Linked DNA regions of Homo sapiens: region 2 is linked to region 1. The links come from fine-mapping of genetic effects on gene expression. A gene starts in region 1. The other region holds a variant in brackets. All regions are shown on one strand. Distances are between the middles of the regions. Region 1 holds the start of SPINDOC (spindlin interactor and repressor of chromatin binding). Region 2 overlaps ATL3 (atlastin GTPase 3).

What was found.
Region 2: its variant is fine-mapped to the expression of SPINDOC in whole blood (INTERVAL, PIP above 0.99).

What each region holds. Positions count from the first base shown.
Region 1 is chr11:63,812,204-63,815,108 of GRCh38, forward strand. SPINDOC (spindlin interactor and repressor of chromatin binding) reads left to right here and starts at 1,253. Exons shown (of 6, transcript NM_138471.3): 1 at 1,253-1,610. The coding sequence starts at 1,484. RefSeq lists a silencer at 889-1,358.
Region 2 is chr11:63,632,635-63,635,539 of GRCh38, forward strand. ATL3 (atlastin GTPase 3) reads right to left here. Exons shown (of 13, transcript NM_015459.5): 10 at 2,900-2,905; 11 at 392-463. The region is part of intron 1 of LNCROPM (lncRNA regulator of PLAAT3 mediated phospholipid metabolism); the gene reads left to right. It also overlaps the pseudogene IMMP1LP1. Among named protein-coding and RNA genes, the nearest start is that of LNCROPM, 18 kb to the left of the region's middle. The variant AAAG/A (reference allele first, on the strand shown) is at 1,567.

The sequences.
Region 1 (2,905 bases):
GACTGCAAGGCCAGGCGCGGTGGCTCACGCCTGTAATCCCACTTTGGGAGGCCGAGGCAGACGGATGATGAGGTCAAGAGATCAAGACCATCCTGGCCAACATGCTGAAACCCCGTCTCTACTAAAAATACAAAAATTAGCCGGGCATGGTGGCACGTGCCTGTAGTCCCAGCTACCCAGGAGGCTGAGGCGGGAGAATAGCTTGAACCTGGGAGGCGGAGGTTGTGGTGAGCCGAGATAGCGCCACTGCACTCCAGCCTGGTGACAGAGCGAGACTCTGTCTCAAAAAAAAAAAAATTAAAAAATTGACTGCAATCCATATAGACTAGTTCACACCTCTTCTCACACCCCCATCCTACTACGCGATTCTGAATACTACTGTGTCTGGTCTGATATAACGACATTCGAAGATGGATTTTCAGTGTCAGACATTTTGCATTTTCTGAGCTGAAATCTCATGAGGGTTGCTATAGAAGAGGGAGATGCACATTCCATGTCACAGAAGTAAAAGCTCACCCAGAGTGTGGTTATAGGGCAGCAATGTCATGGCAACTGGACTCTGGTCTTGGGGCTCTCAAGGGATTGCTGTGTGTCCTTGGAGAGGGTCACAAAATCTCCGGACTCCCGTGCCAAAAATGGAAATCATACCCATCAGGGTGGTTTATGTCCGCTCACAGTCCACTCTGCTTCTCTTCTTTGCCTTCCCAGAAGGGTCCAAAATGGTTTTTGAAAGAAACGATGAGCCGGACTAAGAAAACAGATAATGTGCCCACGGCCACGGAGCTGGCAGATGAGAAGGAATTCGGTCTCTGCGTTTCCATACCAAGGCCCTTTCCACTCACCCACCGCTTCTCTTCCTGCCCGGGGCATCTGCTGGCGGAGGAAGGCTTGTCCACGGAAAGGCAAAAGCGACTCCCGATCAAAATCCGGGGGCACCTGGTAGCGCTCTCCACGCCAGCAGAAACGCCCAACTGACTTCTTAATGGAGGGAAACCCCGGGCTTGGCCCGCAGACTGAGGGGCCCGCGTTGCGGGTTTTGGGGGCCCCTCTGCCTCTGCGCACCGGGTGGCCCCGGGTCCCCTCGGCCCTTCCCGCCGCCTCCCGGGTCCAGGGTTTCTAACGGGGCCGCGTGCCCGGGGCGGGGCCACGCGCGATTGGCCGCGCGGCATCGGGGGCGGGTCCGCGGCTGGCCGGCCGGGCGGGCGCCGACAATGAGCCTCCATAAAAGGGAGCGGCGGGGGGCAGGGGCCCCGGATTGAGCCCTCCCCGCCCGGGCTCCCGACGCGCCGAGGTCTCGGGGAGGCCCGGACGCGCCGGTCGCAGGCCCGGCCGGCGAGCGGCGGGCGGGCGGCGGGGAGGGGGCTGCGCGGGGCGGGCGGCGGGCCCGGCGCTATTCCGGCCAGGAGGCGGGAGGCGGTTGCCGGCTGCGCGCCGAAGCCTGCGCGCCAGTCCTCCGGCCACTGCTATCGCCCACGGCCGCACCATGGCCCTAAAGGCCGAGGGCGCCGCACTCGACTGCTTCGAGGTGACGCTGAAATGCGAGGAAGGGGAGGACGAGGAGGAGGCCATGGTGGTGGCCGTAATTCCGCGGCCCGAGCCGATGCTCAGAGGTGAGGATGGAGGGGATTCCACTTCCGCGTCACGGTGCGGGGCCGGGGCTGGGGCCGTCCCTCCCCAGTCGGGGTCCGGGACCCGGGCACCTTCTCACCCCCTTCAGCCTTGGGGCCCAGGTTTCCCTCTCGGATCTGGGTCCAGGGCGCGCTCTTGCACCTCCCCCACCATGGTTTAGAAGCTCAGGCCTCCTCGATTTCCCCCTCCCTTCCCCTTTCCCCCGCCCAGGGTCTGGAGACTTCGATCCACGCCCCGCACGCTCCGGATCTTCCGGTGCCCAAGCGCCCCCTCTCCCGGGCCCAGCACCAGAGGCCGGATCCCCAGAGGCGCTGGGTGGTTGCGGCCGCCGTCTCACAGCCTGGGAAGGGGAGGCAAGCACAACGGCCGGGCTGTGTTCTAGTCCGAGGGGCGGCGAAGCCTCTAGGCCGGAGGCTACAGGCGGGCGCCGCTGCCGACCTCCAGGAGAATTTTAAGGGCTCTCCGAGCATAACGCTTCCCTGCCCACCACCCCGCTTCATTCCCATTCCCGGGCCTTCCACTTGCAGGAGCCACAGGTGTCAAGTTCTGGAGAGAAGGGATGAATGGGACTGCATACAACAGCTAGTTTGGAAAAGCAGTGCAGTGCTAGAACGAGATTAGCTTTGGGAGGGGATGGGAGGAACAATCTCAGAACACTCGCTCTCCCCTCCCCCTTCACCGATTTCTAGTCCTCAGGAGCTTGCAAACCGTAAGAAAACAAAGAGCCATCTTTGTGGGAGACTTAATATGCATGAAAATGCAAATATATTTCCATTCTCCCACCCCGCTTTTCTTAGGCGGGATAGTACCCAAAAGAGGTTGAGAGCAGCAATGCCATTCATTGAACTTCAGCCGAACAGAATGATGTCTGCCTGCACTGCCTGTCATCCTTTTTGGAACTGGAAGGGTTATAAAATTCATGAGGGAAATAAAGGTCACCTCCCTTCTCGGAGCATTTAGTCCAAAAGATAGGTTGTTTTCCTACTTCTGCTAATATTTGTTGAGTGTTCATTGGGCATTGTCAGAGGCTGTCTCAGTTAATCCTCTCAACCCTGCAAGGGTGGCCTTATCCCCACTGTTAGGGCAGGAATAGACAGGTGAATTCATTCAACCAATATTCACTGGACGTCTACTTTAGGCTGTTTAGGCTAGTGTTTTTAGGCTGGGAAGTAGTAGTAAACAGAGCAACCGAAACCCTGCTCTTGAAGAACATATATATACCAATGGCTAAAGACAGAGAAATAGGTTCATGTATAGTATGTTGGGTGGCAATAAA
Region 2 (2,905 bases), 180 kb before region 1:
AGGACGAATCTTCTTTTAAGATTCGGCCTCTGAGTGATTTTGGATTTTTATGTGCCAGCCTTAATGGCCACAGATTTTCTGATGATTAGTAAGCATTTATTCTTTTGACTTGATTATTGTCTCCTGCTCATGTGAATTTATTACTCCCATTGAAACTATGTACTTACCAATAAACTATTTGCTATTCAAAACAAAACAAAACAAAACAAGAACAAACAAACAAACAAAGAAATGGTAATAATTAGAAGGCCCCCGTTACCAGGACAACCTGAATATAAGTTTATTGCCTCATCACTTAAAGATACATTAAGTAGGATCAAGTTGGGCTTTTGAAGTCAGCAACAATGCCCAGATTATAGATATTTCAGAATAAGGCGTATGTCCCACGTACCTCTTCCATGTTGTTATAATAAATGTCCTTGGCAGAGGCTGCAGCTGCTAAGTTGTTGGCTTCAGCAGTGGCCTTTTAAGAGAGAAAAACGTGAACTGTAAATCCTTCCTCTTTTAACATTCCTCCACAAATAACCTAACAAAAATCTTCTCTATTCCCCATTCTTCCTTTTTTATTAACCTTCTATTTTTCTAGATTTCCATATAGTTCAACTGATGAAATAGAATACACTTTTTCTGCCAAATTTTCTACCAAAAAAAGGTAGAAGTTCATATACATAGAAATATGTATTCTTATACATAAGAATCTTTAGCAAAAATTAAATCTCCAAAATTCAAGGAAAATATTATTTCCATTGCATCAATTTATTTTTTAATTGTTTAAATTTTTCTTTTTTTTTAAGACAGAGCCTCACTCTGTCACCCAGGCTGGAGTTCAGTGGTAATCTCAGCACACTACAACCTTCGCCTCCTGAATGCAAGCCATCCTCCTGCCAGTGCGTGCCACCACGCTTGGCTAACTTTTTAAGTTTTTGTTTTGCAGAGCTAGAGTCTCCCTATATTGCCCAAGCTGATGTTGAACTCCCAGGCTCAAGTGATCTGCCCACCTCAGCCTCCCAAAGTGCTGGGATTACAGGAGTAAGCCACCACACCTGGCTCCATTGCTCCAACTTTAAGAAATAGATGTGAGTCAAAAAAAAAAAAAAAAGAAGAAGGAAAGGTTGGGCGTGGTGGCTCACGCCTGTAATCCCAGCACTTTGGCACTTTGGGAGGCCGAGGCTGGCGGATCATAAGGTCAGGAGTTCAAGACCAGCCTGGCCAACATGTTGAAACCCCATCTCTACCAAAAACACAAAAAAATTAGCCAGGCGTGGTGATGTGCGCCTGTAGTCCCAGCTACTCAGGAGGCTGAGGCAGGAGAACTACTTGAACCCAGGAGGTAGAGGTTGCAGTGAGCCGAGATCACGCCACTGCACTCCAGCCTGAGCAATAGAGCAAGACTCTGTCTCAAACAAAAAAAAAAAAAAAAAAAAGGAAAAAGCCGGGTGTGGTGGCTTACGCCTGTAATCCCAGCACTTTGAGAGGCTGAGGTGGGAGGATCACTTGAGTCCAAGAATTCAACACCAGCCTGCTCAACACAGCTAGATCCTGTTTCTATTTAAAAAAAAAAAAAAA[AAAG/A]AAGAAGAAGAAAAAAAAGGGGGCTGGGCGCGGTGACTCACGCCTGTAATCCCAGCACTTTGGGAGGCTGAGGCGGGCAGATCACGAGGTCAGGAGATCGAGATCATCCTGGCTAACACGGTGAAACCCTGTCTCTACTAAAAATACAAAGAAATTAGCCGGGCGTGGTGGCAGGCGCCTGCAGTCCCAGCTACTCGGGAGGCTGAGGCAGGAGAATGGCGTGAACCCAGGAGGTGGAGCTTGCAGTGAGCCGAGATTGTGCCACTGCACTCCAGCCTGGGCAACAGAGCAAGATTCCACCTCAAAAAAAAAAAGGAAAAAATTATTTGCAATGTCAATCCCAGGCTCTAGCTCCCTTTATGAAAATTTTCTGCTACAAAATAAATCAACACTTGGCAATAAATCCCCTTATGTTCAACATATGAAAGTCAAAAATTATGTTTTAACCAAATGACATTCTAGTTGCAAATTAAAAACCTGATTAGTGAATAGTAAACAGGTGTGTCAGGACATGTTCCACTAAAGTAAATAACAGGTCAGGCACAGTGGCTTACACCTGTAATCTTAGCACTTCGGGAAGCTGAGGCAGGCACATCGCTTGAGCCAAGTTTGAGACCAGCCTGGGCGACACAGCAAGACCACATCCCTATTTTTTTCTTTTAATTAAAAAAATTATAGCCAGGCATGGTGGCTCACCCCTATAATCCCAGCACTTTGGGAGGCCAAGACGGTCGGATTGCTTGAGTCCAGGAGTTGGAGACCAGCCTGGGCAACATGGCTAAACCGATCTCTATTAAAAAATACAAAAATTAGCCAGGCATGGTGGTACATGCCTATAATCCCAGCTACTCGGGAGGCTGAGGTATAAGAATCACTTGAACCCAGGAGGTGGAGGTTGCGGTGAGCCAAGATTGTGCCACTGCACTCCAGCCTTGGCAAGAGTGAGACTCTTGTCTCAAAAAAATAATAAATTAGAAATTATATAAAAATAAAAAAAATAAACAACAGATGACAAGAACTTGCTTGTCTAACATGGTGGGTATGTTTCAACCACGTATAATAAACTGTGCTTCCCAAAGTGTGTTTGGTGAAAAGACTAGGCCCAGTGAGGAGAGGCCATTTCGTTTTAACTGTACCACCATGAATACAAACAAGTGAACTAGAAAAGGTCGCCACACTACTGCAAAATGTGCTAAAAAAAAATTAACAGACCTCAGCATGATGAAAAAGGAGAAAAAGTGCATTCTCTTCCTAAAGAACTCTGCTTATTGTATACAGGTCAACTCAAGTAATTTAAGGGTAGCGTTTAGGATGTCAAATCATTGTTTACCTGAAG